Homo sapiens: one gene and its partners. The protein of the gene in region 2 purifies or fractionates together with the protein of the main gene of each other region. This does not show direct contact. Each region holds a gene or a part of one and is shown on either strand. Other genes may lie near its edges. The genes, in order: LAPTM4A, SLC35A5, RNF166, AP2A2, GATM, VPS45 and SLC41A1.

Region 1 (4,018 bases), on a different chromosome or scaffold from region 2:
AATGCACTACTTGGACAAGCCTTCTTTGCTTCGAAGTATTATACTACAGTTTGGCTTAGGTGGTCTTGCATCATAAGTGTTACATGTCTCCCCAAGTTGGTAGAGACTGTCTTTACACTGCTATGGTATTCAAGCTACTCTTTTGAAAGTCATCAACAAAACTATAATAAACAAAACCAATGGCCTTTTTCCAGTACTTATTCTGATTAGAATCTGATATTACTGATCACCTTCTCCTCCTCCTCATCACTGTACCATATGTTTTTCATATCTGTGCTCCAAGTTTGTGATACCATAAATATCTTAAGGGCAGATGCTGTGTTAGACAAGAAACATTTGAGAGTCTAGCACTTAGCAGGTAATAGGAAAACAAGGCAAATGACACATGGCCCCTGTGATTTATTCCTTTTGTTTGTCCACCAAAGCCTTTTACACTGCAGGTGGTCAGTAAATCTCTTAATCAATTTAAGACAGGTCAAACGATTTAAGAAGTTTACAATAAAATGTTTTACACTAATCTGAGAAGTCTATGCAAAGTAAGAACAGCTATGGCATCTTTTTAAAATTGTGAAACTAAAGCATGGTCTTCAGAGGTATGTGAACCCTTCTCACAACAAGGGCTTAAAGTAGGGAACAGATGTAAACTCCTCACTCCCTATTTTGTAAGAATAAGCGCCCGTAATGAAGTTTTTCTCTCTGCATTTTGAGTTTCCTGTTTGTAGTTCCCACTTTATCCTGCTATTCTATTCATTTTCTAGCTGAGCCCACAGCATCAAAAAATCTGCCTGAGAAAAACTGAAAAGAAATACAGCCAATTACATTCGGATGGTTGAAATAGAAATGGTGGTATTCTCTTCTTGAGGAGTTAGGAATCCTTTGTTCTGTGAGTGGAGGGAAGGATCTGAGAAGAAACAGGAAGACTAAGACTGCAGGAGAGAGCCAGGTCGATGGATTCTCTTAGTTAAATAGGAAAGAAAGTCATCTTCTGGGGGTGAGGAAGACGGAATTGAGTAATAGCCTTGAGGATCCTCAAGGTTTGAATTATTCATTTAGGGAAATAGAAGACAGAGCTAAGGACAAACAAAAGAAATGAGACCCAGCCCCTCAGCAAAATGGAGAAGCTATAAAAGGAAGTTAGAAACATAATGCAGCTGATGGTCATTAACTCTATGTTTAGTATTCCAAATCAGTTAAAATACAGAACGAAAGAGTCTCTGAGGGAAAATGTGATATAGTTCTGTCAATAAGGCGGTATTTCCGAATATAAAAGTACAGGAAACATGAAAATAAACTCAGCACAAGCAAACCTACACATTCGTGTTGTTTTTTAAATGTACATCAGAAACAAGACGGTAAAAAACAACAGGGCAGGTAGCAGTCATGTGGAGTCAGGTAGTCCCCCGGGGGTGGGCCATGAAACAGTATCTGCCTCATTTAAGATGATTCTCATCTGGCGTTTGTCCAAATGCTTACTAATGATTTCAAGTCAATGAGTGGGGAGAAGCAGCAAGTACAGAGAAAACAGATTGTGTCTGGGATAACTCTCTTCCTCTTTTGCAGTTAAGTATCAAAAACTGCACAGTATCACCAACGTCACCCACACAACCACATTCGCGAAGTCATTAAAGTGGCCAAGTCGACCATGTAGGAAGTTTGTCACGGCTTCGGCAAAATCATAATAACCTAAAACTACCTAAACTGAATCCCATATTTGGAAGTCATAGACAAGTTAGGTTTAATGTGCATGGATACTATAAATGGTGAATTACAAAAGAAAAAATCACAAACTTATTACTAGTGAATCACCAGGCAACAACAGTGTCAACTTGGTTAGGACAGAATCACACAGATCTTGGAACCCAGGAGATACCGGGGTAGGTGGCCAGGATGGAGAGGGCTCTCAATAAAGGTCTCTGTAAAAACAGCCGGTCGGCTACGAAAAGCACCTACTGCGCAGGGAGGAGGCTGCACCAGGACAAAAGCTGGTCAGGCGTCAACTCAGGCAAAAGCTATCGCCCCCAAGCGATTCTGGAGATGCAAGAGAGGCATGAAACAAAACAAAGTCCAAGAAACGCGGACAACCGGGTTACCGCTGGATCTTTCGCTTTCCCAACGGGAAGACCAATGTCGAAACTAGACTGCGTTTACCAAGGTCCGCTCCTAATTATTTCATTAGAGGAAAAAATTCCAGGGAGCACTGGATAGGAGGAAGGGAGATGCTGCCTTTCAGATCGTAGAAATACAACAAGAACCAAAACAGAGGAATTCCCACCAAATCCTACCACCCTCGTCCCTTCGCCTGCAAAGCCTCTGCTCTCCCAAGCCCGCTTCTCTCCTCAAATTCTTGCCAAAGAACAATCTCCCCATGCTTACCACCGCCCCCCGCTCCCCCGACTCCGATTCCTGAACAAGGTTACTTTCCCAAAGTCCTTGGACTTCATCCAGAGTTGGCGCGCCTTAAAAAGCAGCGCCCCTCCAAGTCCCCGCCCCACCCAACACCCCGTTTCCAGTCTCACCCCCTCCGCACCAGGCCCCGCTCCCCAGGCCCCCCGGACATACGCGCCACGCCTGCCCGCCTTACCATGTACCAGGTCCCCAGGATGATCGTCCCGGTGCGGACATGGCAACAGCCGCAGCACCGGGTGCTGTAGAACCGGTCACTGCGGTTCCGCTTGAAACTCATGGACACCATCGTAACAGGCGGGCCTCCTTCTTGGCCGGGCCCCTGACAAACGTTCTCCACCCGCAGCCAAACTCAAACGGCTGTTTCACGGCCTCCAAAACCCAACGACGCGTCTTCAAACCCGCCCCCGGCTCGTGCCCCTGCCAGCTTCTTCGCGCCTGCGCACTGAGCGCAGCGACTTCGGCTTACCCACCCCTCTTCCTCCACACAGGCCAATGGGGAGCGGAAGGCTGGATGGACCGGACTTCTGATTGGAAGAACTTGGGGATTGACAAGACCTCACGCCCAATTAGAAGTGCAACTCGCCTCAGCGAGTCTCCGCCTGTTACGCGAAGGCAAGGGCTGGTTCTCGGGCCTAGGATAGTTGGGGATAGGTATGTCCCCGTAGTGCACTATTCCCGAGATGAGACCCGCAAGAAAAGAGGCATTTAATGGAAAAAGGGAGACACGAGACAGCGCGGATGGCAGAAAGCGGGCACAAGGGGCTTTTCTGAGCAATGTGTGCCACGTACTGGATGGGAAGCGTCACAGGCTGATAACGTGACCTTTGCGCGCAGCTCAATTATTGCGCGGGCTGGGGGCGGGGCCTGCGGGGAAGGGACAGAGCCAAGCCCAGCCTTGAGCCATCCTCGCCCCTGTGGCGGAAATGGGAGGGTGCCTGGAGGAGTGGAGGGATTGGATTTACACCCTCTTTTCCCTCCGAAGCCTCCTTGGTGGGGGCGAAGAAAGACCATCCAACCCTGCCAAAGGCAAAAGGATTAAGGATAAATGAAAGCAAGATAATGTAGAAGAACTACTTAGCTGCTGGGTTTTTGGAGATGAGTGATTTTTTTTTGTAGGGAGAAATTATGAAACACATTGAAATGGACAAAAAATTACTGAATGTCTTCAATGAAAAAACAGCCATAGTTTGGCACACCGTCCCGGGCATTCTGTTGCTAGAGGGGCTGTCCGCTTTTCTTTGTGGTGCTCTGCACAACTCGGTAAGACCCCTCGTATTGTTATCTTACCCTTCCTTGGGAAAAGCCATTTTGCATCGATTTGTAAATTCATTCCCCAGTCCTGATTCAACAATATAGATGGGTGCTTTAAATTCTGCTTAGAGCTGGTTCTAACAGCTTACTGGTCCCCGGGTTAATGAGTAAATAAATTTTTTACACGTGTTCATTTTGTATTTCTGTGAGACCTGTGACTTCACCGTTAAAAAATGTATTTATCATTTAATGCTTTGGTAAACACACTTCTTTTCAGAGAATAGAAAGGGCTTCCCTTCTGCCAGGGCATATTCTTAGCCAGAGACCACACTGAATTCAGAGTAAAGGTTATTTCTTTGGC
Region 2 (4,123 bases):
CCTTTAAAAAAAAAATCAGTCACTACTGTAACAGCTAATGTGTCACAATTTTTTACTTTAAAAATGCTGTACTGTTGCCAATATATTTTTAAAAATTATACAGCCAGGAAGGTCAAACCGTGCCTTGTTATCACTAATAACCAGCTACGGCTATCTGAAAAGCTTGGGAAAAAGGTTTTGCTCGTTAGATGGGTTCAAGGTTACTGAATGAGATAATGTTGCCAATTTCACCTCCTTCCTCTGAAATCTAAACGAGTTGGGATCGCAGTCACAACTTCCCCACTACAGCGGACTTTCATGAAACTTAAAGGAAAAGTGACCTCACCTCAGGTCTCTTTTGACCTCTGTGTGTCAAACACTAAATTCATTTTTTAAAGAGAAGCAAAATCCTTGCTTAAAAAGGCTAAAAGACTTCCAGTGTTTGGATTTAACGTTCTTCAATCTACTCAGCCTCCGAACACCCTTCCAACCCGACGTACCCGACCGCGCAGAGTTATGACGGGAGAAGGCAGGAACACGCAGAGCGTCGCTCCAAGTTTACCCCTGAGGAGTCAGAAAGCCCTAACGAACAGCCGGTTAAGACTACGGGTGGGGGCTGCACACTTCCCTGTGTCTCGAGCCCTACTGCCTTCCTACACCTTGCCCCGCCGGAGAAAGCGGGGACTCCTGCGGCGCCTGGTCCCTGAAAAGTCGAGCATGTGCCTGACAGCTCCCGGCAACCCTGGCCTGGCTTACCTTGAGGACCGGGGTCAGGTACTCAGCCACTTCCAGTGCCTTTCCCTTCACAGTATTAATCACATTCTGCATCCTGGGGCCGGAGTAGCGGCCGGCCCCGCGACGGGATGGAAAGTGCAGCCGTGTCAGGGGCCAGGGAGTCAGAAAATGTCCTCGCTGCCACCGACTCGCATCAGCACCCGGCTGGCAGCACCCGAGGGGACGGGACGCGACGCGACGGGACGGGCGGGACGAGGGGGCGGGGCGGCAGGCACAGCGCGCGAAGACGGGGTGCGCGATCCTCGCACCCCAGGCAGCCCGCGACGGACCGGACCCAGCTGTCACCCAGCCGCGAGGGAGGGCAGCGGGGCCGAAGGGAGACCTGAGGTGAGAAGCGGACGCACACGCACCCCTCGCCCTCTGCGAGCTGTCTGTCCTCGCTTTGCTTCACTCGCGCCCCTTCCGGCTTCCCTTCCTTCTCACTCTCTTGCCGTAGCTGCGCCGCCACCGGGGCCTCACGTGACACTAGACTCTCCCGGCACGTGACGTGAGAAAGGGGCCGGGCTGGGGCGGGATAAGCCGCTTCTCCCCTCCTTCCGGAAGCGTAACACTGAACGTGCCTGCGCAATGGGTGTCGGGTCCGCTTTTTCCCAATCCGGACGTAATCGTGGTTTTTGTTCTGCAATAGGCGGCTTAGAGGGAGGGGCTTTTTCGCCTATACCTACTGTAGCTTCTCCACGTATGGACCCTAAAGGCTACTGCTGCTACTACGGGGCTAGACAGTTACTGTCTCAGCTCTAGGATGTGCGTTCTTCCACTAGAAGCTCTTCTGAGGGAGGTAACCGCGCCCCGCGGGCAAGGAATTGCGCCTGCGTCTGAGGGGAGGGTGCGCCAGTGAAGAGCCCTACTGCGCATGTGTGACTAGAAGGGTAGTCCCTGACTGTGAAGGGAAATCTGGCCCCCTCCTGTCGGGGAGGCGTCCTGTAGGCGTGCGCCCAATGGGGCTGTCAGTATTGGCATTTCTCCCCACTCCCCGCAGGCTCTATGCGCTATTCCTACAGTACGCTGGGAGGCTTTGGGCAAGTTACTTACCCAACCTGGGGTTTAGTGTCCTCAGCCTATCAAAAGAGGGCCTTAGATTCATTGATTTCTACGATCTCCTCCATTTCAAACACTAACTAGTTCAGTAAAACTTTACAGCAGTGTTTCAGATATTTCCATTTTGGTCGTTATTGTAATGAAGTCTGTCCTAATAAGCTTTTTCCTCCGAGGGAAAAGAGGAGGAAAATACAATTCTGAAAGCCTTATCTTACAGCAAAATTATTTACTAATAAGAGTAAAAGCGAGGCCGGGCGCGGTGGCTCACGCCTGTAATCCCAGCACTTTGGGAGGCAGAGGCGGGCGGATCACAGTCAGGAGTTCGAGACCAGCCTGGCCAACATAGTGAAACCCCGTCTCTACTAAAAATACAAAAATTAGCCGGGCGTGGTGGCGGGCGCTTGTAGTCCCAGCTATTCTGGAGGCTGACGCAGGAGAATCGCTTGAGTCCGGTAGGTAGGGGTTGCAGTGAGCCAAGACCGCGCCGTTGCACTCCAGCCTGGGTGACAGAGCGAGACTCCGTCTCAAAATACATAAATAAATAAAATTTAAAAATAAAATTCAAAATTGCTTTGAAGAATTCTTTTCTGCTGTTGCAAAGTGTCATTTGCTCACCTGCTACCTTTGTCAGCAGGTCTAATCTGGTTCTACGTTTTCTGTCTCCAGAGTACTCCCTCTTATCAGATTTTCACTTTCCTTTTGTCATAGTTTCTTTATGCCTCAACTTTCTTGGTGCTGATATAGTCATAGCCAAAATTTTTTAAAAATTCCTTTTTTGTCCTCACGATCAATGGTATTTGCGTTTAGGGTCTGCCAACAAGGTCGTTCATGAAAGTGTTTTTCTCTTTAAGGTAATTAAAAAACAGTGGAATGGAAAAACAGTGCTGTAGTCATCCTGTAATATGCTCCTTGTCAACAATGTATACATTCCTGCTAGGTGCCATATTCATTGCTTTAAGCTCAAGTCGCATCTTACTAGTGAAGTATTCTGCCAATGAAGGTAAGTTAAGACTTGGTATATGCATGGAGCACTTCCATCTAATCACACATCTCTCTCTTGCCTTTGGTTCTGTTATATATAACATGGAAATAATAATGCCTTTTGCTTCATGTGAGTGATAAAGCATATTTAAATTTGATTATTTAACCTTGCATTCCTCAACAAGAAAAAATGTTTGATAATGGATGAAATGTGAGTCAATCAGATACAAAAATCAAACCCTTTGGTGAAGAACCAGTCGTAACATTTGACTGTTAATTCAATCAACAGGTGTTTCTGGACCTATAGCAAAATGTGTAATTGCGCCTTATTTTGAAGTAGAAGGATATATTTGTTTGGTCACTTGGCATTTGTGAGGTACTTACTATTGTAATTATTGTATCAATGGTAAGGTGTCAGCATTATATTGTGCGGTCATATTGTATCAACAGTATAAATTATAAGCTTTGATAAGTATGTATTTAAGAAATCTTTTTTTATGTAGGGATTTAAGCAAACACTTTAATTCCACAAAACTGTATTGAGTACTTCTTACTAGTTATTGAGTGAAGGGGTGGGTTGCCCCTCCACATCTGTGGGTGTTTCTCGTTAGGTGGAACGAGAGACTTGGAAAAGAAAGGGACATAGACAAAGTATAGAGAAAGAAAAAAGGGGGCCCAGGGGACCGGCGCTCAGCACACGGAGGATCTCTGCCAGCCTCTGAGTTCCATTAGTATTTATTGATCATTATTGGGTGTTTCTCGGAGAGTGGGATGTGGCAGGATCATAGGATAGTAGTGGAGAGAGGGTCAACAGGTAAACACGTGAACAAAGGTCTCTGCATCATAAACAAGGTAAAGAATTAAGTGCTTTGCTTTAGATATGTATACACATAAACATTTCAATGCCTTAAAGAGCAGTATTGTTGCCCGCATGTCCCACCTCCAGCCCTAAGGCGGTTTTCCCCTATCTCAGTAGATGGAATATACAATCGGGTTTTACTCCGAGACATTCCATTGCCCAGGGACGAGCAGGAGACAGATGCCTTCCTCTTGTCTCAACTGCAAAGAGGCGTTCCTTCCTCTTTTACTAATCCTCCTCAGCACAGACCCTTTACAGGTGTCGGGCTGGGGGACGGTCAGGTCTTTCCCTTCCCACGAGGCCATATTTCAGACTATCACATGGGGAGAAACCTTGGACAATACCTGGCTTTCCTAGGCAGAGGTCGCTGCGGCTTTCCACAGTGTTTTGTGTCCCTGCGTACTTGAGATTAGGGAGTGGTGATGACTCTTAACGAGCATGCTGCCTTCAAGCATTTGTTTAACAAAGCAC
Region 3 (3,500 bases), on a different chromosome or scaffold from region 2:
CTGCCTGGGGAGGACACAGCCGACCTCCAACACAGACAGCAGCTGGCGATTCCACACCGTGGAGCACAAAAGCCAGTCGAGGCTGCTAGAGATGCTCTGAGACATTTTATTTAAACTTTTTTTTTTAAAAAAAAGACAGCAATAATTAATGCCAAGAACAGAAAAGAATGTTGACGTGTTGCCCGGCCCGCCAAGCGGGCCCCTGCCCAGGCCCCCAAGCTCTGCCACCACTGGGGTGCCGTCCCCTCCCGCAGCGGGGCACAGTCAGCTTTGAAGGTGACAGCGGGCCAAGGCCAGGACTCTGGGTGGAGGAGGCCCCTTCTCTGCCGGCCCCGCCTCTGCTGGGAGCAGCCACAGCCTGTGGCTGGGGTGCTGGGATTTCTTCCTGGTCATCAAAGAGAAACGTACAAACCTCAAGGACCCAGACACACAGTGGGTGGCCAGGGCAGACCCCACAGCAGACCCCATGGCTCGCCTGAGCTCTGGCAGCTGCCCCACTGCTCCTTCCATCCTTGCCCCAATCCCCCAATGCTTGTTTTGATTGTTTTCTTAAAAAATATAATTTTGTAAATGTTCCATAAAAATACTATTATTCCTAGTCAAACACAGATATTGCAATATGAAGAGTAACTGCTCTGTCTTTGCTCTATAAAACGTGAAAAGATTATCACACTGGATAATATAGAAAAGATGCCAGGGTTCCTAAGTATCACAAAAGCCAGTACCAAATGCGCAAGGTGGAAGTGGGGCCGGGGCAGGGTCGGGCTGGGCAGGGCAGCAGCCTGGGTTCCTCCCGGCTCGACTGCGGAGCGCGACTCGCGCGTCGGTCCCTTCTTCCCACGAGGGGGTATCATGGCTTTGAAGAGACGGCGGCAGCTCCAGGTCCCAGCGTCCAGCCCTGCCCAAGTAGGCCGCCTGCTCGGCCAGAAGCACCGAAGAACCCAGCGACGCCGGTGGGACCAGGCGGCCCTGCTCTGGCGGCCTCGGCGGCTGGCCCGTATTCAGGCCCGGAGGCTCGGCCCCGGCTCCCCTTCTGCGCGGGTGCAGGCTCCTCCTGTGAGCTCAGTCCGGTGAGGTGCGCTCCCGAGCAGGTGCCAGGTGCGACACAGGAGCGGGGACATCCCTGACCCCAGACGCAGGCGGGTGGCTGCGCTTCCCTTCAGTTCTCAGAGAGAGACAGGGCCAGAGCAGCCTGGAAGGCGGCCTCCTCGTCAATACTGTAGTCCTGGAGACAGGAAGGAGAGATGCACCGGGCTCGAGGGAGACAGGAAGGAGAGGTCCCCTCTGCCCATCACCCACACAGGCGTGTCCACCCTTCCTGCCTCCCTCCAGCAGGACACAGGAAGGACCCAGCTCCACTGTCCCCACAGGCTCGGGGCCTGCACGGTCCTCTGGGGGGTGAGAAGGTGAAGGTGTGTCCATCACCCGCTGGGTACGGGGGCACTCGGAATGGATGGCTGCTGGTTCAGGTCGGACTCTAAGCCCGGGGTTTCCGAGGTGAGCAGGCCGGCCAGGGCTCCCTGACCTCTAACAATTTCCATCCTGAGGCAGGCGGAGCGTGGGTCCCGGACGACTGGCAGAGGGAGTGACAGCCATCGCCAGGACTGTTAGCCAGGGCCAGGAATGAACAGGGCGGCGCAGGGAGGGGCCGCACCAGGAGTGAGGAGTTTGTGCGAGGGTCTGCAGGCCCGGGGGCCAGGTGTGTGCCTGACCCGCGGCGGGTGGGAAAAGGAGACAGGGCTGGAGTGTTCGATGTTGATGAAAGTCCTTCCCGCGCTCTCTAGAAAGCTTCCAGAAGGAAGCCTGGCTCACCCTCGAGGGGTTCTGTGGGGTGGGCAGGCAGGGACCTGCCCTGTGCGGTCCATGTCCCCGAGAGGCCTGGGCACCCTCTAGTGGCCACTCAAACTCAGCTGCCATCACTCCCCACCTGCAGGCAGCCCCCACAGAACCTGGGGGAATGTGGCCACCTGAAACGAGGCTTCTGTTTCTGGCTTCCTCTGAACCCTGCGGACCCTGAGGCTGGCGAGGGGCCCGAGCAGGAGGAGGGTGGATGAGGAGGGCGTGGGGGAGGACGGTGCTGGCGGGATGCCTACCACAAAGGTGTCGTAGGAGAACTTGTGTCGGTGAAGCAGGTGCTGCAGGAAGTTGGCGCTCTTGTAGCTGGGGTCCCCCCAGGGCATTGCCGAGCAGATGGGGCACACCTGGAACAGGCACTGGGGTCAAGCCGAGCCGGACCGCGGAGAGGCGGGGTAGCCGCAGTAGGACTGGGGGCCCTCCACTGAGCCCCGTCAGTGCTGCCTCAGCCTGGGAAGGCACCCCAGACCTGGAGGCGCGTGTCCCGGTGACAAGCGAGTTATTCAGTGCGCGTCACCCTGAAGGACTCATGGACACTCCCCGGTTTCCGCCAGGTGCTGCTCGGGCAGCCAAGTTCCCACCCTGGGTCCCAGGAGGCCTTTGTGGCCTGGGCACCCCCGGACTCGCCGCGAGCAGGCTCCTGGGCCTTGTACTGTCCCCCACAGGCCTCCCCTGGCGCAGGCGTCGCTTGGGGCAGGCACTGCTCACCACGCGGTTGGGGTCGCTGCGGTGGCTTTCCACACAGTGCTTCACCAGCTCCTGCTGGTCCAGGTTGCGGGCACCACAGTACGGGCAGGCGAAGGTGGACCTGTTGGGGATGTTGCTGGCGGGGCGGGGGTAGAGTGAGTGGCACGGCTAGGTGTCTAGGGGCTCTGCCTCCCCGCTTCTCTCAAACACAGGCGTGGCCCCAGGCCTGCCCTCTGTAGGCTGCAAGAGCGTGGCAGTGGCTGGGTGCCCCCCGTGCCTCTGCACGCCATGGCCTCCTGAGGACACACCCAGGACCCTCGTCCACCCCACACAACTAGGCCAGCCAAACGGCAGAGACTCTGCTGGCGCTGCCCTGGCAGGAGCCGTCTCTCGGCCCATCCACCTGCTGGGAGGCGATGTGTGGGCCCGGCCTGCGCCCTCCTCCTGCTCCCCACAGCTGAGCTGTCCCTACCCCAGGGGGCCTGGTGGGTATGCCAGGGAGGGCAGCACAGGAGCCTTCCTGCAGGGTGGCAAGGAAGGTCCACTTCCCCAGAGTGGACCCGGCCCCGGGTGACTCCCCCAGCCTCTCTGGGATGGGGCACTGCGCTTGCTCCCAGAACGAGGAAACCGCCGAGGACAGTTCCTCTCCCTTGCCCGGCAGCGTGCCTACCTGGGGATAGGCTGTGATGTGGGCACCACGGGGACGAACTTGGGGCAGTTGGCCATCTGCTCCTGGACCTTCAGGCAGGACGAAATGTGCACTCTCATCTTTGCCAGGGTCACCTAGGAGACAGGGCAGGGAGGGCAAGGCGGTCCTGAGAATCTGGAAGGGCCGTCCTGGGGAGGCCGAGACCTCAGGTGTCCAGGACCAGAGAACTGTAAGCAAGCGTCTGTGTTGCCAGCAGCAGGGGGACCCGGTCCCTTCTGCTGCTAAAACAATCTCAGGCACTGAGCAGCCA
Region 4 (3,436 bases), on a different chromosome or scaffold from region 2:
CCTGGGATCTGCAGTTGGGCAGGGCTGCCCCCAGCAGGGTCTGGGCTGGTAAGAGAAGCTGCCTCTGGCTTTGGGCCCCTGCCCTCCCTCCATTAGGACTGTTCCGTCTCTGGCGAAGCCCACCGTCCTCCGGGGGCCACCCCCATCTGCCCGAGAGCCCCTTCTGCACCATCTGTGGTAGGATCAACTGGAGGATCCCCACGGGGCCTCCCGTTCCCCAGGAAGGAGCCCTGGGCTGCACCTCAACACACTGTACAGTGGGGAGCCCTGCGGCCAGGCTGGAGGGGTTCCCGCATGACCTGAGTCCCAAAAAGCTCCACCACACACCCAGAATCAAACCGGCGGAGCAAAGGGCAGGTCACTTTCTGATGCCCGCTGCCCGTGAGCCCACTGCTGAAGGACAGGTCGGGGACCTTGGGGTCTGTGCCTCACGCGACCCCCGGGGAGCTATGAGGGTTACATGGGATGCTTTCCCCCCAAAGAAAGCGCGTGATCCGGGGTGCAGTTCTAGCCTTTATTTTTCTTTGACGAGGAGTGCCACACTGAGGGCCCCTCTGCAGCGCCGCACAGGGAAGCGGTGCCTCGGGGAGCAGCCTTTCCTCTGATGGCGGGAGGGGTCAAGGGATGCAGGAGATCCACGGCAGCACACGCAGCCTGCAGGCGCAGCACACAGGCAGAGCACTGCCCAGCAGCTGGAACATGAGAATGAGGGCCACACCACCCAGCTGCAGCACAAGCCCAGCACGGCGTGTCACGGCACCTGGCACCACCAGACCCAGAATGGCCTGTGCGAGAGGCGCACGCCACTGACGTGGCTATGCTGTGATCAAAGCCCGACACGCCGGAAGAAGAGCCGCAGACATTGTGGGGTGCACACACTGCAGGGGAGCTGTGGAGACCCTGATGGGTCCATGAGCCCCTGCAGCTGCCCCAGGGACCCGCACAGCAGGCAACTGAGGGCCAGGGTGAAAACCCTCAAGCACATGTGGCCACCCACCCTCCCTGCCTCCACAGCATGTCAGGAAGCCAGAACCTGTGCTGGGTGTGTTTAGGACAAACAAGGCCACCATCCTGGGGACAGAGCGCAAGGCCCCAGCCTTGGCTCCTAGGCCGGCCCCACTCTCTCGCCTCTCAGGTGTCAGACGTGCAGCCTGGGTGCTGAGTCCAGATGACAGGTGAGACACAAGCCGCAGGTGGCACATGGCATGCGGCCAATGGCCCCTTCACTTCCTGACCACACAGAGGCGTCCCTCCTCCACAGCCCCTCCAGGGACGACTGGACGGGGCCGGTGGAAGGACTCAGGCCTGCACCGTGGCCTGGGGACGCCCACTCTGACAGGAAAGAGACGAGCACACCTCTGAGTCTTGCGCCACCGGCCCACACTTTACCCTGGAGTCCTGGGGGCCCTGCGGGGCCGGCAGGACGCTCCTCCCCTGGCTGCACATCCAAGGCCTCGGCGACTGCAGGAGCATAACAGACGCCCTTCACAAACAGGAGCTGGGAAAGGAGAACAGTTACATCCGGCCAGGACACGTGCTTTTGCCAGAAGTCATTACAAATACAAATGTTTCTAAATTCTAGATTAAAATCCTGCCTGGGAAAACAGTCCAGCTGGGACTGCAGCAAAACCAGGGTCAGCTGTGCTCCTCCCAAGGGCCCAGGACGACGCCAGGTGTGCAGCCACCAGGACGGCCACACACCAAGGCTCAGCCCACGCCATGCACAGTGGCACTGCTGCTCCCAGAGGCTCCGAGGCGGGGTGGGCGGCAGCACGGGCCATCTCAGTGACACTCCCACAAACGCCACGTTCACGCCAACTTCTAATTTCCCTTTAATTTGTAGATTTAACCACAGAACTGTCTCGATTTTTATAAAAATTGATCCCAAGATCCACCTTCTGCCGTGGCTGCCACAGTCCAGGCTGAGCTTTTCCTCCTGAGCCACACACGTGTGTTCCCGTCCAGCCCAAAGGGGAGAGGTGTGGGGCGGCGGGGCGGGGAGGCGCCTTGTGCTGTGGCACTGGACACGGTGCTCATCTGCAGGATGGCCACGAAGACAAACGGCACAGACGAAGACAACACAAGACACACGAGCCTGGTCTTCCATCCTCAGGACTAAAACTGCGCTGAGAGCAATTCACATAATCTCTGAGAAACGGCTTCCTTACTTGTGCGCAGCGTGAGCCGGTACATCTGAAACAGAGAGCACAGCAGGTCAACGGGCACGCCGAGGCTCACACAGCCCTCGGGTCCAGGATCCGCCATGCAGAACCCTGTGGGCCATGCCCAGGGACCACTCTCTGGAGGCACCCACAACTCGGCAGAGGCCTGAGCACCACACACACTGTCAGCATGAAAACTGAGGGCTGGCATGGGAGCGCCTGGCGTCTCGTACGTAGCTGGCGGGAGTGCAAAGTGGCACGGCCACCTGGAGAAGCTGTGGGATGTTCTTGCAGCACTAACCACACACAGGCCCTGGGCGACAGCAGCACTCCTGGGTGCCACCCAAGTGAAACGGAGACAGGTGTCCGTCGCCAGAACGGGACGTGGTGAGAAGGAACAACGCGGTGACAGAGAGGAACAGCTGGGAGAGCCACCGCCCAGGGCCAGGCTGCTCCATGGTGGGACGATGCTCCACGGTGGCCAGCTGTGGGGAGGCTGGGATGCAACCATGTATTGACAGGGTGGTGGTTAAACAGGCACACAACATCTGTCACAACTGACTGAACTGCACTAGGGATGATGCTCCACGGTGGCCAGCTGCGGGGAGGCTGGGAGGCAACCATGTATTGACAGGGTGGTGGTTAAACAACATCTGTCAAAACTGACTGAACTGCACTAAAGAGCTACACATCTCACCACGTACATTGTGCCAGAATAAAAAGCAACTCAAGTGTGTTCCACCATTTCCTGAGGGCCTGACCTGGGCTTGCAGGTTCGGCTCCAAGCGCAGCAGGCATCCAATCTGGGTGGTTTTCGTGTGGATGATTCCAGCTCCCACGAAATTCGCAGGATTAGGATCAACTTCTTCAAGAAGTGCAGAACCAAATCCAATGATCTGTCCAAAGAAACAGGAGAATGAGGACCCTGGCGCGGGGTCGCGGGCAGCGTGTCCCCCGGGGCCGCCCCTCCAGACCCTGGCGCTGGGTCGTGGGCTGCGTGTCCCCCGGGGCCGCCCCTCCAGACCCTGGCGCTGGGTCGCGGGCTGCGTGTCCCCCGGGGCCGTCCCTCCAGACCCTGGCGCGGGGTCATGGGCTGCGTGTTCCCCGGGGCCGTCCCTCCAGACCCTGGCGCGGGGTCACGGGCTGCGTGTCCCCCGGGGCCGTCCCTCCAGACGTGTTACCTTGGCTTTGGTGACTTCTGTGTCCATTGGGTGCTTTGCTTTGAAGATGTTCTGCACTTCCTGCTGTGGACTGTGAGAAACAGCAAAGGCGAG
Region 5 (3,500 bases), on a different chromosome or scaffold from region 2:
TTTAGAAAAACTGAATGATGCCAGTGAAAGTCTTAAACAGAGGCTGGTAAAAAAAGGTCCATAGGCAAATTTGGCCTGCTGCTTGTTTTTGTAAATAAAGTTTTACAGGAACGCAGGCACATTCATTTGTTTACGTATTGTCTATGGCTGCTTTTGCACTACAATGGCACAGCTGAGAGTTGAGTAGTTGCAACAGAGACCGATGGTCTGCAAAGCCTAAATTACTTATTATCTGGTAGAAAGATGAAGTTTGCTGACGCCTGGGGTCTGAATCATTAATTAGCTCTTTTACTAAGGTCTATAGGCAAACAGCAGGCTGAATTTCTGGACTAATGAAAAATGTTATCATCATTAAACATTTTTAAAGACCAAGCTACCCTTTCAAAAAACAAAATAAAAGCACTCCACTGTTTTCTACTCCTAGGAATTTCTGCAACAGCAACCAGAAAGAGGATAATAATGACTCTTTATATTCCTCTCAGATACATGCTGGTACTACTCATCCATTCACCACTTCCTCCTTCTCATGCCAGGCACATCTCCTACAATCCACTAGGGACAAGAAGCCTTTGAAAATTTAACACTGGGTTACAGCAGATGCAGAGTTATGCTGTCTTGCCAGACTCATTCCAAAGTATCCTCCGTGACTATTTGTGCAGGGTGAAGCTTGCCTTGATAAATTAAACCTTCCTGGGAGAAAAAGGTTATTTGAACAAATGTGATTTTTTCTTGTAGAGTTTATAATCTGGCAAAGGTTGGGCAAAGTACAAATGATCAGGGCACAATACGTTTTACAAGAGATAGCTAGAAATTGTTTACACTTCCTTTATAACCCTGCTAAATGAGCCAGCAATCATTCACCAAGTTGTTTGCAAGATGATGAACACTATATTAGACGCTTAGCATATGATGCTTTTAATAATCTGTTGCAAAGGTATGTCTGCATTCCTTGAACCTTTATATTCTTTCAAAGCCTAAAACCCTTTACAAAGGTTTGCCAAGTGAATTTTTAAATACTGTCTTTGGAAGGCTAAGAAATGACAACAGAAATGTATTTATCCAGCTGTAAGCTTATATTACACTAATCTTGATTAATCTTGTATTTTATAAAAGGTCCTTTATCAAGGGCTTTATTTTTAAAAGACAAAAGCAAAACAAAAAACATATTTGAGGCTGGGCACGGTGGCTCACCCCTGCAATCCCAGCACTTTGGGAGGCCAAGGCGTGTGGATCACGAGGTCAGGAGATCGAGACCATCCTGGCTAACACGGTGAAACCCCGTCTCTACTAAAAATACAAAAAAAACAAATTAGCCAGGCCTGGTGGGGGACACCTGTAGTCCCAGCTACTTGGGAGGCTGAGGTGGGAGAATGGCATGAACCCAGGAGGCGGAGCTTGCAGCGAGCCGAGCTCACGCCACTGCACTCCAGCCTGGGCGAGACAGCGAGATTCCATCTTAAAAAAATATATATCTATATATATATATATTTGATAGCAGATATTTACTATATTTTGCAGAACAAAAAGTCACAGAGCTTTAAAAAATTATGCTTCCCAACAATTATGTTCCACATTCCTTTCCTTAAAATTTCTCTAGTACTTATATCTTCCAACATCTTCTGCTCTGATTGCCTATGGACAGTTTACTACATTATTTTTTCTTTTATTGTTCCCAAACTGATTAATATATGTGTCATTCTTCTCTACTACGAGGCATGGCCTTGCTTGCTAGGATCCATGCATGTCTTAGATTTACTTTCTTCTCCCTCAAAACCAGGCTTAGCACATGGCATGAAACAGAAATAACCATTATTTCCTGTCTAGAATCAAAGAGAGAAAGAGAAAGAAGAATAAACAAACAAAAAGAACCAGACGAATGAAATCAATACTGCTAATGTTACTGATATCTACAACTATTACACCGACAAAGTACCTTTGGAATGTAATTGGCAAACTGGATCCATACAACTATAATAAGTTGTTGTGTTGTCCTTTAAAATACTTAACATGTAACCTTTTATCTTTAGATTAATCCTTAATCCTGTTAGGTAGATAGCAAACTAGCAAACCTCTTAATATCTTCATTTTACTGTGGCCCAGAAATTTGTGGAATCTTGTACAAGGTCAAATAGCTAAGTAACCGAGACTAGCTATCAAGTTTTTATCAAATACCTAATTAATCCCAGACTCCTGACTTCAGCATGGTACTTTTTCCACAAGTCCATGAAATGACAAAGTCTAAAGTCATAAATCAAGTGACAAAGAACTCAAAATTACCTCTGAGAATTCTGATTCTGTAAAATCGCATGATATGAAAGTCTATCATTTTAAAGACAAGTAGAAGGATAAATTATTGCTTGGATTTAAATTTTAATTTCACCCAATTAAAATGGTTAGGGGATGGGACTTTTCAAGAAAAGACTTAAAAAGACTACTATGCCTTTTAAAAACATGTGGATGGTGTATAAATTAATCTTCTCATCAAATTCCAAATATCAGAACCAAAGATAGTTTCAGAACAATTAGAAGTTATTACTTTTTCTATTTCCCTGTCTTCCAAGTCTAACTCAGGAGTCATTTTCTTCAAGAGGACTTCTTAACTGGCCAGCCCTTGGTCATTCCTCTTTCCTGGCACTTCAACTGCCTTGTCAGTCGACTGGAATAAGATACTTGGTCTTCGTTTCTATGTGAACATCAAATCTCTTCAAATAGAAAGGAAGATCTTTTATATTAATACCTCTAGAGCCCTGGTACATGGTAGGCAATATTTCTGAAGACCACGACAATGCTGTTACAGAACTTCTTTCCTCAATCCACTTTACAAATAAAAGTGTAAATATTCAGGAAAAATTTAAGGACACTAAAGATACATTTGTAACCCATTATTAATAGGAGTCTAGGCTGTGTCTACAATGTGGAAAGTGGTCCCTTAGATATGGAATCCTTATGCAGTATAGAACCTGAACACCAGCCCATAGAGGCCCTGGATATAAGAACGTTACAGATAAAAACCACTAGGAGTTTTTGTTTGTTTGTTTGTTTTTGAGATGGAGTCTCACTCTGTTGCTCAGGCTGGAGTGTAATGGCGCCATCTCAGCTCACGGCAACCTCTGCCTCCTGGGTTCATGCCATTCTCCTGCCTCAGCCTCCCAAGTAGCTGGGACTACAGGCACCCGCCACCACGCCTGGCTAATTTTTGTATTTTTAGTGGAGACGGGGTTTCACCGTGTTAGCCAGGATGGTCTCGATCTCCTGACCTCGTGATCCACCCGCCTCAGCCTCCCAAAGTGTTGGGATTACAGGTGTGAGCCACCGCGCCTGGCCACCACTAGGAGTTTTTAAAAAGAGAGATATTACTTGTTGCCAGGGAAATCCTGGAAGACTTTGTGAAAGGTGTCATTGAAGCTAGGTGGTGGTAGGTTTAAACTACAGACTAAAGGGCACAGGAAGATGGATGGAAGAGACTTAGGTAGGGGCAAAGATGCAGGGCTTGTGAAGAA
Region 6 (3,500 bases), on a different chromosome or scaffold from region 2:
TTTCCTGAACGTTTACTATTTCCATATTCTGTCAGTTACCTTTTTTTTTCATAATTCTTTATTTAGTGGACATATCAGGCCATGGTCCACGAACTACTAGGCATAAACAACAATCGGATTGATCTTTCCAGAGTGCCGGGAATCAGTAAAGACTTAAGAGAAGTGGTCCTATCTGCTGAAAATGATGAATTCTATGCTAATGTAGGTGGTTTAAATTTTTTTAAATTGTCTTTAGTTGTTTTTATGTAAGAAGATCAATATTGGCTTGTTAGTATAGGGGCAGGCATGGGATTTCATGTGAAAGGATGATAGGGGCATCCTGTGCATAAACTGCCTCTGAAGGGAAGGCAGAAGACTTGGATTCTGACCCTTTAGCAATTTTTTTTCATAGAGATCACGTAGTTATTTACTTCTCTCCCCTCCAGTAGCTGTTTGTGAGAATAGTAATGGTATTCATCAACAGTGTCCCAGCTAATGTCCAAATTTGGTAATTAAAATAGAATTTCCCTGCCCTTCAATTCTGTGTTCCAAATTCTTTTTCACTTCTTTCAAGTTGTCTGAAAGTCAGACTAGTTGATGAAGTGTGCTTCCAACTTTCTTTTTCACAGAATATGTACCTGAACTTTGCTGAGATTGGTAGCAATATAAAGAATCTCATGGAAGATTTTCAGAAGAAGAAACCAAAAGAACAGCAAAAACTAGAATCAATAGCAGACATGAAGGTAAATTGAACATGTACATGAATGACAAACATGTGACAGTTTGGTACTATTCATGTAAGCAACACTTTTGGAATCTTCTGGGTCTAATTTCTACCTTGATTGATTTTATTTGGTTTGAGACTTATTTTCTGTAATGTCTTTAAACAATATAGTGAAAACTTTATGATAAGCCATGTGCTTCTTTCCATTCTTCAGTAATATCTGGACTATTTAAAGACTCAATCTATTGCTGGGAGCAGTGGCTCACGCCTGTAATCCCAGCACTTTGGGAGGCCGAGGCGGGTGGATCACCTGAGGTCGGGAGTTCAAGACCAGCCTGACCAACATGGTGAAACCCCGTCTCTACTAAAAATACAAAATTAGCCAGGTGTGGTGGCGCATGCCTGTAATCCCAGCTACTCGGGAGGCTGAGGCGGGGGAATCGCTTGAACCTGGGAGGCGGAGGTTGGGAGGTTGCAGTGAGCCAAGATCACGCCACTACACTCCAGCCTGGGCAACAAGAGCAAAACTCTGTCTCAAAAAAAAAAAAAAACTCAGTCTACCAACATATACCAGTTCTTCTCTTCTTAAGCATAACAAAATGCCATGTGGCTGAAAGTTGTAGATGCTTTAATCTGGGCTGAAAAACAACCCCCGCTTTCCCCAACCCCCATTCAGTACATGCTTATCCTCAGTCAAAAAATAACAGAACCTCCCATTGATGTTTTTCCCATGGCAGGCGTTTGTTGAGAATTATCCACAGTTCAAGAAAATGTCTGGGACTGTTTCAAAGCATGTGACAGTGGTTGGAGAACTGTCTCGATTGGTCAGTGAACGGAATCTGCTGGAGGTTTCAGAGGTTGAGCAAGAACTGGCCTGTCAAAATGACCATTCTAGTGCTCTCCAGGTCAGTCCAATTTGATGAGCACCTACTATGTGTAAGGCACTGTGCCAGGCAGAGCAAGAGATAAAAAGGCAAGTAATCCTTCTTCATCAACATGGAATTTAGTCCAACAAGGAGCTGACATGAGAACACAAATTAATATTATTTAAGATAGATCTATAAAAAGAGTCACAAGAGAAGTGTAATGTGCAATTCCCAAGGGTTCAGTTAATTAGTATAAGGGCAGCCTAGTCTACTAGAAAGAGCACCAAACTAGAATCAGAAGATCTAGATTGGAGTGTTTGGTATACCACTTACAGGCTTTGTGACATGGAGCTGTTGACTTAATCTCTGAGCCAGTTTCATTATTTGTAAAATAGGTATATTAATACTCATCTCACAGAGTGGTTAGGAAGACTTTAAAAGATAAAACATATATTAAAATGTATTGTCTAAGTTTTTTCATTATTGAAGATCTGCTTTTCATCGCACCAACATATTAATGCCTGCTATATGTATATACTACTGCTGTGAGGATCTGAATACAAAGATGAATAAGATACCACATTACAGTAGGGGAGAAAGAAATTTAAACCAGCAATTGTAATACCAAGCACTATGTACTATATTAGAGGTATTTACAAAGGAATATGGAAATACAGAGGAAGGACAACTGTTTTCCCCAAGGATGAAGCTTCTTAGCACTTCTTAGGGAAAATAACATCAAACAGGGAAAAGGAAGAAACATTCTCAGCAGAGAGAATGCAGGCATGAAGATGTGAAGAAATAAATATTGATATATATATATATTTTCTATATATATATAAAATATTTATATTTGAAATATACATATATTTAAATATATATATGGGAACAGAGAATAGTTCAGTGTGGCTAGTCCAGGGTACAAGATGAGTGGTCTTAGACTGGAAAGACTGACTGAAGCCAGGTTATGGCCATTGGAAGGAAGTTGGGCTTTAATCTTAAAATGATGGGGGCTCCCGGAGGATTTTAGAAGAATAGCAACATAATCAGACTCTGGCCTCAAGAAATGTATAGTCTAGTTGAAGAGACAAAACTAAAGCACAAGAAAAAATTAGATAATGTTTCAAGATGAGAATTAAGTCATAATTGTAATACTGACTGTAACAGGTTTTGAGGTTATTAGGAACAGTTCTTAGAGAAGGCAAGATTTGGATGGACCACAAAAGAATGAATAGAATTTGGGGAAGGAGTTCAGCCAGGAGCAGCAAAAGCAAAGATGTAGAAATATGCAGGAAGTAATAAACAGTTTGACCTGTAGAGAGTGAGTATGAAACAGAATTAGATAAAATTGAATTGGTAAACAAAAAACAGTTTACAAGCTTTATGAAGAGGCTTGTAAGAATTTATACCTGCTGAGATAAGCAAAGAGATCCAGTATAGGATCTTATGTAGAAAGTTGAGGTGAGGAAGGCAGTATTTTAGGAAATGTAACCTAGTAAGGATGCTTTAGAGGTGAAAAAACAGGTCAGAGAGACTTGTAGACTTACAGTGATAGTAGTAAAAATGTACAGCAAGGGGCTGAACTGAAAAACATTTCAAAGGGAGAAGAATTAGACGACAGGCTGGATATAAAGATAGAATAAATCAGAGGTAATCCCATGTTTCCTGAGAAATGACAAAGTATGATGTCACTGACAAGTAATTTAGGACTACGAGTCCTTTAGGAAATAGCCATTTCTAAGCCACTTATAAGAAGCACATTTCCCTGTTAATAGGGCCCTATATTCTAAAGCTTAGCTTCTTTCTTTCCCAGCTACAGTTCCACTTTATTCTATAAAATAATGCCAACCTGTTATATTGGAAACAACTCAGGTTTTGGACCCAGACTGGCTTGGCTTATATCCTACCTCTCCTTACCAAAGTTTCTTTGG
Region 7 (3,500 bases), on a different chromosome or scaffold from region 2:
CACTGTGCAGATTCTAGGAGATTCAGGCCTGCCCCACCGTGGTATTCTAGATCAAGGGCATCGCCAACTTAAAAGCGCATGTAAATCTTGTTAAATGCGGACTCTGACTCAAGAGGTCCAGAGATTTTGCATTTCTAACAAGCACCCAGCTGTTGTTGATGCTGCTGGTCCTGGGCCCACTAGCGAGATTCTGATCTGAGTCATTCTTAATTATCTGTATTAATAGAAGGTAAGCAAGAACACAGATAAAATCAAAGCCACAGATCATGTCAAATGTATTTTGAATTGGTATGCATTGTCTGCTTTATATTAATATTGAGGTGACTTATTCACAATTCAACTTTATTAGGACTAATGTTAAAATAAACTTGCATTCTTTGAGCCCAAACAATGGAAAAGAATGGAATGAAAAGCCACAACAACAGAATGAAAAGGGTCAGGAGGAAGCCAGCTTGGGATGATCATCTGTTACTTAAGACAACCGCCAGCAGCAGCTTCAAACACTATCCTTATACCACTCTGCCGAGAGAAGACATCCCTTTAGGAAAAGCTGACTCCAGCAGCCAGCCCCCTGCCATGCTCCTGGAAAGGCCAACATGGCAGGAATTGGAGTGACCCCAGAATGAGGTGACCCAGAGTTAGAGGCAAGAGGGCTGAGTTTCTGCAACAAGTAGGATTTAGGTCAGGAAGCTCCTTGTTTGGTAAACTTGGGAGCAGAATATAATGCTGATGTGGGTGACCCTGGGTCGTAGCAGCATCTTCCTTTCTAAAGAGCTCTTATTGTGCCTGTTGTCTGCTCAAAGTGGTAATTGTGGGGTGGAGAAACACAGAGAGGTTGCTGGGGTGGAAAGAGGAAGATTAAAAAGTAAGGATTATGGCCAGCCAAGCCCTGTGATGCACTGAATGGGTCTGATCATGTGGCCTCTGGCTCCCCCTGGAGAGAGAGGATGGCTATAGGCTGGGCCCTTTTGTCTCCCCAGGTGCTGATTCTCCTGTACATCGCAGACTGGATGGTGCACTGGATGTGGGGCCGGGGCCTGGACCCGGACAACTTCTCCATCCCATACTTGACTGCTCTGGGGGACCTGCTTGGCACTGGGCTCCTAGCACTCAGCTTCCATGTTCTCTGGCTCATAGGGGACCGAGACACGGATGTCGGGGACTAGCTTGGTCACTCAACATTTTCCCCATCCCTCTGCACTTTCTATTTGAAATTTTTCTTTTGTTCCCCTGTCCCTCCTCCACCCCACACTCCCACCTCTTTCTAGGACTTCACTTTGATACCAAATTCTCATTATTTTCAATGGGAATTTTTATACATTGAGCCAAGTTTGTATAGCAAGAATTTGGGAAACACAGATGGCCTGAGATAAGCAGTACAAGTAGGTTTTTGAGACAATCACCAAGTGCAGTTTCATGGTGGGTGCCTCCAGGTGATGTGGACTGGAGCAGGGGAGTTTTGTCTGGAATCTGGGGACATGGGGTTTGGCTTTAGCAACCTGTCTTGGCCCTAATGAGAAACCCTTTGTAAGTGGGCTCTGGATTTTTGGTTTTGTTTTCTTTTTATCTGTTTTGTTTTATTTTTGGTTTTGGTTGAACAGAGGGACAGAAGAATAAGTAACACTCCCAAACACAGACATACTTTTGTAGAAGTGGACCAACTTCAAAGCTCTGGACAGGAGACACCTGCTCCAGGCCCCTGTGATCCCAGTTCTGTTCTCTTGCCCTCTGGACCTAAGCGTTCCCACTCGCAGAAAGAGTAAGGTGGACTGACTTTTCAATTTGTGCACATGCCTCTTGTTCAATGGCCTGGTCAACATCAACAACCCCTCCCTCTGATCATTTCCAGTTGATTGTCATATCCAGGAAAAAATGGAACAGTGCACTCTTCTCCCTGTTGACCCATGTCCACCTATTGGTTCCCCAAAATCCACATTCTCCCTGGGCCCAAATGACTTTGTCTCCCTGGGCCCAGATTCTTTGTCTCTCTTCAACCTTCATCTCAAATTGTCTCTAAGCACTACCTTCCCCAGAGCTTGCCAGGTTGGGTTTTGAGATTAGGGTCAGGTCATGGGTATGTGGAGAATGGTTTGGAGGTTGAGGACAACCACAGGTGTCTCATTGCTGCCATTTCTCCTGAGGACATAATCACTTGGTCACCTTGGACCCTGTCACTTCCTAAAATTACTCGTTCTGTCATGCCATAGAGGTCAGTTTTCCTCTTTCTTGGCTTCTACCCACAAACATTCACCAATCATTTATTCGTTCATTTAGCAAATATGCAGCCTCCGCAAGATGAGCTCTCCTGCAGACAAGCATGGTCTGAAACATTCTTTGAGCAATATTTATTGAGTGCCTACTATGTGTTAGGTACTGTGCCAGGCACTGATAAGCCAGTGGTAAGGGAAACACAGCTCTAACCTCACCTCATTCTCCAGGTTACAAAGGCCATGTGCCCCTTTGAATCTGGCAGAGAAAGTTTCCTCGTTGTAAGTATTTGCATCTACTTCAAGCCAGATTCTTCTGCCTCTTTCTCCTTTCCAGACCCCTACTCTGTGCAGTGCTGACCACAGCTAGAGCCACCGCCCCATTGCTCAACCAGTATTTATTTCCCTAAACGACCCTTCCTCACATTCCCTTCCCTCCACCTCTCCTTACCAAGCACCCAAAAGAGGATTTAGAACTAGCAGGGTGGACATCATCTGGTTGTTTCTACTTTTCTCTGCCTAGCACAAAATTGGGAGAAAACTGGAGCCTCCATCCGCAGTCACACGTGTACAGATCTGGGGATTTGGATGTAGGCTTTTTCTAACTTCTCTCTCAGAAGCTTCTACAGAAACCCTTCCATCTGTAGCCTCAAGGGCCCACCTCCAAGGGAAGGCTTAGGCAATGATCCTGTTTCTACCAACACTGCACCTTATCCCAGGAACCTGCCCTAGACCTCCAGAGACCATATTTTCTCTCCCTCCATTTCTACCCAGACCTCCAGGCCTCCTTCTGGAATCATAGAACCGTAGAATTGGAAGGAATTTTAGAGGTTTTCTAGTTGGAGTTGTGTCCAACAGAATTCATTAACACCAGCCTGGGCTTGTTTTTCCTCCTCCCTCTGGACTTTTTTCATCTTTTCCTCCACCTCAAAAAATACTTACACACAGATTCTTCTTGTACAGGCATCAAAACCAACTCCTCTGCCCCTAAGGCTGTGTCCCTGTGGTCTCCAGCCACCCCTACCCCAGTCACTCGCCCCTTCCTCATCTCTGGAATTTGGCCAGGCAGTCCCAGAAGACTCTGGAGTGACCTCCTTTGCCTAAAAAGCAGACAGATAGGCATGCCCCAGGCCCTGAGTGAGCAGAGGAGGACTGTAGGGTGAGAGGGAAAGAAAATGAAGGTGACTTTCATGGAAGTTTCATTTCTTTTCCCCGATTGTACCAACTGCATGTACTTTTGGCCTGGCTGCAAGGAGCAATATTGGTTTACTCTCGTATCCTTAAAAAGTTACA

What was found.
Region 1: the proteins of SLC35A5 (region 2) and LAPTM4A purify together in Homo sapiens (affinity purification with mass spectrometry; one large-scale study listed by BioGRID and IntAct). This does not show direct contact.
Region 3: the proteins of SLC35A5 (region 2) and RNF166 purify together in Homo sapiens (affinity purification with mass spectrometry; one large-scale study listed by BioGRID and IntAct). This does not show direct contact.
Region 4: the proteins of SLC35A5 (region 2) and AP2A2 purify together in Homo sapiens (affinity purification with mass spectrometry; one large-scale study listed by BioGRID and IntAct). This does not show direct contact.
Region 5: the proteins of SLC35A5 (region 2) and GATM purify together in Homo sapiens (affinity purification with mass spectrometry; one large-scale study listed by BioGRID and IntAct). This does not show direct contact.
Region 6: the proteins of SLC35A5 (region 2) and VPS45 purify together in Homo sapiens (affinity purification with mass spectrometry; one large-scale study listed by BioGRID and IntAct). This does not show direct contact.
Region 7: the proteins of SLC35A5 (region 2) and SLC41A1 purify together in Homo sapiens (affinity purification with mass spectrometry; 2 studies listed by BioGRID and IntAct, with this or other methods). This does not show direct contact.

What each region holds. Positions count from the first base shown.
Region 1 is NC_000002.12:20,048,829-20,052,846, forward strand, and holds the start of LAPTM4A (lysosomal-associated transmembrane protein 4A), read right to left. Parts: upstream 2,801-4,018; 5' UTR 2,693-2,800; coding exon 2,582-2,692; intron 1-2,581. UniProt on the Homo sapiens protein: May function in the transport of nucleosides and/or nucleoside derivatives between the cytosol and the lumen of an intracellular membrane-bound compartment.
Region 2 is NC_000003.12:112,560,722-112,564,844, forward strand, and holds the start of SLC35A5 (UDP-sugar transporter protein SLC35A5), read left to right. Parts: upstream 1-1,323; 5' UTR 1,324-1,552; intron 1,553-2,663; 5' UTR 2,664-2,682; coding exon 2,683-2,812; intron 2,813-4,123. Other genes in the region: ubiquitin-like-conjugating enzyme ATG3, read right to left, coding at 736-807. UniProt on the Homo sapiens protein: Probable UDP-sugar:UMP transmembrane antiporter involved in UDP-alpha-D-glucuronate/UDP-GlcA, UDP-GlcNAc/UDP-N-acetyl-alpha-D-glucosamine and UDP-N-acetyl-alpha-D-galactosamine/UDP-GalNAc transport from the cytosol to the lumen of the Golgi.
Region 3 is NC_000016.10:88,696,409-88,699,908, forward strand, and holds the end of RNF166 (E3 ubiquitin-protein ligase RNF166), read right to left. Parts: exon of another isoform or gene 3,326-3,500; intron 3,325-3,325; coding exon 3,212-3,324; intron 2,678-3,211; coding exon 2,563-2,677; intron 2,202-2,562; coding exon 2,094-2,201; intron 1,708-2,093; coding exon of another isoform or gene 1,526-1,707; intron 1,226-1,525; coding exon 1,160-1,225; 3' UTR 93-1,159; downstream 1-92. UniProt on the Homo sapiens protein: E3 ubiquitin-protein ligase that promotes the ubiquitination of different substrates. In turn, participates in different biological processes including interferon production or autophagy.
Region 4 is NC_000011.10:1,009,305-1,012,740, reverse strand, and holds the end of AP2A2 (AP-2 complex subunit alpha-2), read right to left. Parts: intron 3,414-3,436; coding exon 3,344-3,413; intron 3,059-3,343; coding exon 2,924-3,058; intron 2,194-2,923; coding exon 2,116-2,193; 3' UTR 501-2,115; downstream 1-500. UniProt on the Homo sapiens protein: Component of the adaptor protein complex 2 (AP-2). Adaptor protein complexes function in protein transport via transport vesicles in different membrane traffic pathways.
Region 5 is NC_000015.10:45,372,045-45,375,544, forward strand, and holds part of GATM (glycine amidinotransferase, mitochondrial isoform 1 precursor), read right to left. Parts: intron 1-3,500. UniProt on the Homo sapiens protein: Transamidinase that catalyzes the transfer of the amidino group of L-arginine onto the amino moiety of acceptor metabolites such as glycine, beta-alanine, gamma-aminobutyric acid (GABA) and taurine yielding the corresponding guanidine derivatives.
Region 6 is NC_000001.11:150,081,276-150,084,775, forward strand, and holds part of VPS45 (vacuolar protein sorting-associated protein 45), read left to right. Parts: intron 1-66; coding exon 67-201; intron 202-608; coding exon 609-722; intron 723-1,440; coding exon 1,441-1,608; exon of another isoform or gene 1,609-1,676; intron 1,677-3,500. UniProt on the Homo sapiens protein: May play a role in vesicle-mediated protein trafficking from the Golgi stack through the trans-Golgi network.
Region 7 is NC_000001.11:205,789,199-205,792,698, reverse strand, and holds part of SLC41A1 (solute carrier family 41 member 1), read left to right. Parts: intron 1-980; coding exon 981-1,166; 3' UTR 1,167-3,500. UniProt on the Homo sapiens protein: Na(+)/Mg(2+) ion exchanger that acts as a predominant Mg(2+) efflux system at the plasma membrane.